Homo sapiens: one gene and its partner. The protein of the gene in region 1 purifies or fractionates together with the protein of each later gene. This does not show direct contact. Each region holds a gene or a part of one and is shown on either strand. Other genes may lie near its edges.

The links.
Region 2: the proteins of VANGL2 (region 1) and RIMS1 purify together in Homo sapiens (co-immunoprecipitation; one large-scale study listed by IntAct). This does not show direct contact.

The regions. Positions count from the first base shown.
Region 1 is NC_000001.11:160,406,856-160,410,671, reverse strand, and holds part of VANGL2 (vang-like protein 2), read right to left. Parts: intron 2,869-3,816; exon of another isoform or gene 2,784-2,868; intron 2,670-2,783; exon of another isoform or gene 2,417-2,669; intron 2,217-2,416; exon of another isoform or gene 2,038-2,216; intron 1-2,037. UniProt on the Homo sapiens protein: Involved in the control of early morphogenesis and patterning of both axial midline structures and the development of neural plate. Plays a role in the regulation of planar cell polarity, particularly in the orientation of stereociliary bundles in the cochlea.
Region 2 is NC_000006.12:72,249,835-72,253,650, forward strand, and holds part of RIMS1 (regulating synaptic membrane exocytosis protein 1), read left to right. Parts: intron 1-495; coding exon 496-626; intron 627-1,086; coding exon 1,087-1,258; intron 1,259-1,380; coding exon 1,381-1,534; intron 1,535-2,926; coding exon 2,927-2,998; intron 2,999-3,816. UniProt on the Homo sapiens protein: Rab effector involved in exocytosis. May act as scaffold protein that regulates neurotransmitter release at the active zone.

The DNA of each region.
Region 1 (3,816 bases):
GGGGGGTGGGTGTTGGCCAAAACACAGACCAGGGCGGACCAACCCTTTCCCATTTCCCACTCAAAGGAGGCGGCTCAAGTGGGCAAGGCGTTGAACACAAACGCCAGCACCCCCATGTGTGGCGCGTGCTGGGGGCCGATGACCAGACGCAGGCAGCTCCAGACGCCACCTCCTGCCACTGCTCTAGCCCGGGCCCACCCCGCAGCCCAGTCCCGGCTACTTTAGGCCTGGGGTGAGGTAATGAGACAGAGCATAGATGCAGACGGGGCTGGGAGAAAGAGCTGTGGAAACCAGGGTGAGTAGGCCACGGAAGAAAAGGGGGGCAGGGACAGAGCAAAACATGTACCTAAAAAGGGCACCTAGTGTTCCTCATCTCCACCGAGGACAGGGCTGGAAGCAGCTGAGAAGGGTGCTTGGGTTTGATTTTTAAAAGACTTCCAGCCAGACGGGAAGACGATGGGAAAGAGGACAAGAAGCCTCAAGTTCTCCTCAGACAGGGGCAGAGATCTCTGATAGGACCATTTTTCTCTCCGTAGTCAGGGACTAGGGAAGGGTGGTTCTGCCTGAACACAGGGAAATGGGTGTGATTACTGCTTCAGAACCTGCCTGAAGAGTCGTCTGTGGGCCCCTGCCCACTAAAGGTCTCCGATTCCTACTCAGGAGCCTGGGTCTTCCTGCATATGCCTTGCACCCCTTTCCCACTGCAGCCCGTGGGCAGGGGTATGCATGTGGGCACCCCCTAGCTGCCTGGCTCCCTAATCATCACCATCCATAGTGCCAAGGTCCAAGGATATCAATATAAGTTCCACTCAAAGTGCTGGAAGCCCACCTTCAGCCATGGAGGTGGCAAGAACTAAGCCCAGGGTCCAACCTCCCAGCCCAGGATCCCAGGAGCTAGCTCTCCGTGCTAGCTCAGAGTACAGTCAGAGTACCTCACCAAGGCCTAAGGCCAGTGCAAGGCAGAGCAGAGACTCGAGACACAGCTGTCGCACTTCAGAGCCTTGCTTGGTTTTCCTCCTTGTCACACACCTCCCCTGAGTTTCACAGATGTGCTCAACCCAGGCAGCGCTGTCAGGCCCTGGTGGGGGGCTGAAGTTGATGGGTGTGGGTTGAAAATGCAGACATCCAACACAGCTTCCACAGACGGAAGGAAGGTACCTGAACCTCTGACTATGCCCATATCATTCCCCTGACACCCCTTCCCCTTTCCCTTTCCCTTTCCCTTTTCCCTTCAGGAGGACACAGCTGGCTGAACCACCCTCTTCTCAGCAGTTCCCAGCACCAAGCTGAAAGGGGCCTTAGAGGGACAACCTCAAATTTTACAAATAAAAAAGTGGGACCCAGAGAGAGAAGGTGACTAGCCCATGGCCACTACTTCTACGGCAGCCCATTTCTGGCCTCCTCTAATTGTTGGAAAATCGTAGTAACACTGACTTTGAGGAGTGCTCCTCTTGGAGTGAGACCAGGTTTCTCCATGAGACTGCTCTGGACACTGGTTCCTTGAGTAGCCACAACTGCAAGAGGGCCACGACAGGAGAGGATTTGCTGACTCCGTCCTGCCCCCTCTTCTCACCAGGGACAAAGAGACAGAGACTAGACAGGCCTCAGCTAAGACAGCCAGAACCAAAGAGCCTCTATCCCCAAAAGGGGTGGTTCCTGCACCCATCCATCTACCACAACTAAGAACCTTGATGTTCCTTCATCCCCATCCAGCCTTGGGCTATGGGCAAGCCACCCATCCAGAGAGGCTGGGCTTTTGCTATCACCGAAAAGACTAAGGTACAGAGTGGGCAAGGACCAGCTCCAGCCCTGGACCAAAAATAGGATGAAGATTTTGCCCTGACCCTCATTCCTAAACCCTGAAAAAGGCTGTCCTTGGGTGACAGTGCTGCCCAGGAGGCCAGAGAGAACAGCTGTATCTTGGTGGGCTGAGGGGTGGGAAGGGCAGAGCAGGGAGCCCAGGAGCTGGCACCAGGTGCCCCACCCCCGCCCTGTTAACCAGGCATTCTCCCAGGACAGCCCCAGAGATGAGCTCACCATCCTCATAGCCCCAGGGTGGGGGCAGGATCCTTCTCCTCACTGGGCTGAGTGGCAGAGGAGGGGTGGGATCCTGGCCATGCTTGTGTCATCCAGGCATCTAGGCTTCCAGAGCAGCTTCTCACCAGCAGACCCCAGTGCAGGGTGCACCGCAGGGGAAGGGCCCACAGACTGGGCTCCTGGCCAGGATACCTGAGCTTGCATTCTACCTCAAAAGCAGTTGGGGAAGCCAGAGCCAAGCCCCTCTCCACCTACGTCCTGAATTTCCCTCAGTCTAAGGCTGGGGGTGAGGCCGAGGACCTCTAAATCCGCAAACACACCAAAATACCCACCCATACGCATACACACCCACACTCTGTTCCCCCTCTGAAACCTGGAATCACTCCTGCCTGCCCCACCCAGCTCCACCCACCCTGGCTAGGCAGGTTCTGTAGAGACCTGCTCCGCTGTCTCTCTGGCACCCCCACCCCCATCCCAGCTCCCAGAAGGTACCTGCCCCCCAACACAGCACACAAAAGCAGACACGTGTGCACATTCATGTCCCATAGCACCCCATTCCCTAGCCTTCCCCAGACCCATTCCTAGTCCGTCTTGAAGAGAACACTGGGGGTGGAAAGGCTGCAGGAGAAAAGGTGAGTAATGCCCCTGGCATCTGTCCCAGGTGGGGGCCGGCGGGAAGACGGGACACTAAGCTGGTGGGAAGGCAACCAGGGCTTCTGGATTCTCCATTTAATTTTTACCAACAGGCAGGCCCCACAATTTCCACCACCAGGCTTTGAGCTGCTTCCTCCCTTGGCCTAGGCAGAGAACTGGCCCGTACCTGCCCACCAGGTGAGCTGTGGAAGAACCAAGAAGGAAAGCAGGCAGCTTGAGGTGTCTTCAGGGAGAGGGTGGACAATGGGAGGTGGGTGAGTTGTGCTGACCCGTAAGTCAGTGAGTGTCCTGTACACTCCAAAAACAAATGCCCCCCTCTTCCTAGCCTGCTGCTCGAGGTAGGCCCCAACTGTCCCTGGCCCCAAAAGACCTTCAAAGCCTGCTCACCCAGCCCCTGCCCTGGGGTGCAAAGATGTGAAAAGCAGCTAGTTGGGAAGGGGAAGTTAGCCAACCTCGGGCTTGCTGTGGATGGGGAGAGTTGAGCTGTGAGGATGGAGTGTGAGGGAAGAACATATGGGGGCACTGTCAGCAAAGGCTGGATTGTAGGAAAGTGGTAGAGTGGGCCTCAGGGTGTGAGATGCAGTGTGACTGGGGATGAGGGTGGCAGGGCTGGGTATCCCCATCCTGAGAACCTCCTGTTGCCTCAGCCCAATGCCTTGGATCTGGCAACTTGGCCAGTTCTTATCTAGAAAACCAGATCCAGCTGAAAGGCCCAAGTACCAGCCGGCCTCCACCATCGCGACCACCCCCCTACCTGAGATTCTCACTCTTTGCTGAAAATTCTCAACTCTCCCATCCCTTATATCTGCCACCTCCATTCCTGAAGTAAAGCAGGTGTCAAAATGCATGTTTTTGTTCACAGTCTGTTGTTTTTTAAGTGACTGCATTCACACTTCGGGCTCAGCACCTGTTCCTATCTAAACCCTACTTACCCTAAAAAACCAGACCCCCTGGGCCGGGCGTGGTGGCTCACGCCTGTGATCCCAGCACTTAGGGAGGCCGAGGCAGGTAGATCACCTGAGGTCAGGAGTTCCAGACCAGCCTGACCAACATGGTGAAACCCCGCCTCTCCAAAAAATGCAAAATTAGCCAGGCATGGTGGTGCATGCCTGTAATCCCAGCTAT
Region 2 (3,816 bases), on another chromosome or scaffold:
CCCACAGTAAATATGTTTTATGATCTCTTCTAATTCTTTGTATTTCTTATTCCTAATATCCAAACTCTTGTTTTTTTTAATTTTAACTACCTGTGACACCAGAGAAAGCATTTAGTCACGCTATAATAATTTAGACACATATAATCTTCAAACTCTTATTTTTAACATTTAAGAACAATAATAATGATTTTATGTCTCCCTCTTCCCTTAGTTTTTTGGAAAAATTATTATTAGTTTTATTTTATAAAATGATATGTGAGAATATACAGTAACACTGAAGGCCTGCCAGTTGTAGGTTATGTTTAAAGTACTCAAAGAGAAAAGTAAAGTTCTGTGTGTTTATGCTTTCAAATTGGTGTGTTTTTAGAAATATCTGTAATTGCATTATATTGTAATTCAAAATTTCCTCATTTAAATATAACTTGAATTTTGTTTTATGTAAAATTGTAATGCCTCATGATTTTTACAAATAATTCCTTTCCTCATTGCTCCTAGGTGAAGTTGTGGTATGATAAAGTGGGACACCAGCTGATTGTAAATGTTCTGCAAGCAACAGATCTACCTGCTAGAGTAGATGGACGTCCTCGAAATCCCTATGTAAAAATGTATTTTCTTCCAGATAGAAGGTAGTGAATAATTTTAGAAAAAAAAAATCTTAAAATCTGTACTAATAGAAAAGGTAGAATTTTCTCTTTTGGGATGTTTTTAAAAAATATAATAGATAATTCTGAGGAGATAAAAGTACATTATCTCTGAAAAAAGAAGTCCCTCAAGTGTTGGAAATTGTGTTGGAAATATTTGAAAATAATCTGTCAATTAAAAAAATCTATTACCTTGTTTATAGGTATATTAGTCTTTGATAGCGACACATCATTTAGAATGTACCTTTGTATGTGTCCCTATAATTACAATACTGCTTATATTGTAACTGAAGTTAGAATATTATTAAACTCTATTATCTTTTTATAGACTTTCCATGAGTTATTAGTTAAAATAATATAAATATCAATGGCAGTTTTACATGTAACTACAGTAGATGGCAGCATGTACTTGCTTTTTCATTTACAAAACATACTTATTTTTCAGTGATAAAAGTAAAAGGAGGACCAAAACAGTAAAGAAAATACTAGAACCAAAATGGAATCAAACTTTTGTCTATTCACATGTACATCGTAGAGATTTTAGAGAACGAATGTTAGAAATAACTGTGTGGGACCAACCAAGAGTGCAAGAAGAAGAAAGTGAATTTCTTGGAGAGGTGATGTATATTTTAAAAACTCAAGTCAAATAGTTAATAAAGTTTTGTGATATTTATTATGATTACTATTACATTATGTTTTGATAAAGGTACTTGATTTAATTTGAGAATTACCCTCTCAGATCCTCATAGAATTGGAGACAGCGCTTTTAGATGATGAACCGCATTGGTATAAACTTCAGACACATGATGAGTCTTCACTACCTCTGCCTCAGCCATCACCTTTCATGCCAAGGCGACATATTCATGGAGAAAGCTCTAGCAAAAAGCTACAAAGTAGGTTAAGGTCCTTTTAGTTGCCACAAAGTAATTATGCTGTAATGATCTAATTAGTGATTAATAATTCAAGATGTTTTTTTTAAATGTTTTATTAGAGATCAAAATACTGGAAAATTGTTCATCTTTATGAAGCAACTTGGCAAAACTGTTTCTACATTTTCACAATGAAAATAATGTAGATAGCATAGCAGAGTAATTGCAGAGCTGCAAGCCAAAAACCTCTGAATTAAAATTCTTGCACAGGGCCAATTGAGCTGTTGGTTATTGACTGATGGAATAATTTCTGTCATCACTGGTGAGTTGCCACCTGTGAAGTCTTAATAACTTTATAGTTCAAAGATTTTTTCTCCCCCCACCGAGAGAGAGTCTCACTCTGTTGCCCAGGCTGGAGTGCATTGGCGTGATCTCGGCTCACTGCAACCTGCACCTCCCGGGTTTAAGCAATTCTCCTGCCTCAGCCACTGGAGTAGCTAGGATTACAGAAGTGCGCCACCATGCCTGGCTAATTTATTTTTGTATATTTAGTAGAGATGGGGTTTCACCATTTTGGCCAGCCTGATCTTGAACTCCTGACCTTGTGATCCATCCGGCTCGGCCTCCCAAAGTGCTGGGATTACAGGTGTGAGCCACCATGCCCAGCCAGTTCATAGATATTTTAATAGTTATTCATAAGAAATGTTGTTTAAAATATTAGAAGGTATGTTTATTGCTATTCATCTAGTGATTGGGAAAAGCTATTTTTTTCTGTACTTATTGAGTAATTTTTGTGTCATAACTACATTTCTAAGTTAACAGCTGAAAGAAGCCTCATTTTGGTAATCTGGAACTAAATTATTTTTCTCACATAATTAAATATTTCATGTTGATGCTTCCCTGATCAGTAATTTCCTCAAAGTTAATGTTTAATGAAGTATAATGACTAATTTGGGGAGCTAAACATAAATATTTTATAAAGGGCCCTGATGTTTTTTCATTAATATAGGCTGAATAGAGCTCCAGCCAAGAAATGTCTCTGAACCTTTCCACTCAGCCCTATTCTCTCTGAACTGCAGAGGAAAGCACTTAATTGTGTAGAAAACAATGTACTGTATATACTGTGCTGAAGGCTTTTAGTATAATATTTTAATTAAAGAATTAATCTGAAAATCTTATTCTGTGAAGTCCCCTTGTTTCTATATGTCTTTGGTGTAATGAGGAAAAAAATACTGATAAAATGTTATCCTTAGAGAACAAACATTTCTTTTAAAATTAGCTCAGTGTTTACTGTATTAGTCTTCATAAGTTTTCAGTAATAATGCAATTCACTTTTTAAAAAAAGTTTGACAGTGCTCTTTACGTTTCATAAACCAACCAGACACAGAAGTATCTCTTTGCCTTACTGTTGTGCAGGATCTCAGCGAATCAGTGATAGTGACATCTCAGATTATGAGGTTGATGATGGTATTGGCGTAGTTCCTCCAGGTGCGTGGGTGAGGAGCATGACCCTGCTTCACTGTGCTGCTTTGCTTGTTTTCTCTGTCAGCTTCCGGACCTCTTTAGGATACTAAACTGAAGATTTATAGCACAGAGAAATCAGTATTATATTATTCCATGGTGACTTACATTTCAAATTATTAAGAAAGTTTTAAATGGACTAGTCTCTACTAATTAGCATTCCCATAGTGAGGTTCTTCCGTAGAAACATGTCTAACTAGTGAAACAAATCATTATTTCACAATGCTCTGAGCGTAAGTGAAAATACGAATTTTATTTTGAAAAGATGGGGTTATTAAATAAAAATTCCATTTTTCTGTGTTTTATATTTGCATTTCTATGATTTTCCTTCCACCATTTCTGAAAATAATGTAGCCCTCCATGGAATATACTGAGAAAGGTGCATGGCGGGGTTTAAAATTGCATGTGGCATGGCTGTAACTTTTAAAGCTTTTGTGATGTGTTCCCACTGATTATACCTAGAATGTGTGTATATGTTTTAATACAATAATATGTTTAAGAAAGATTAAGTATTAATTTGAAGTGAACATCTCTTTGTCATTGTGTAAGTTAGTAAAACTTTTGTGATGTTGTAGGGTTTAAATGTTTCTCATCTGACTTCTGTCAGAAAAGTGTAAAATCAAGTGGTAAAGACTTACTTTCTTGGCACTAATTCTATACTTTTTAAAAATTTACTAATGAGAGGAGAAGTAAATATGCAAATAAGAAGAAATGAAAGAGACAGTCTTAAAATGTATAAATATGAATTTTAAAGGCAGTTTTTAAAGACAGTATATATATATATG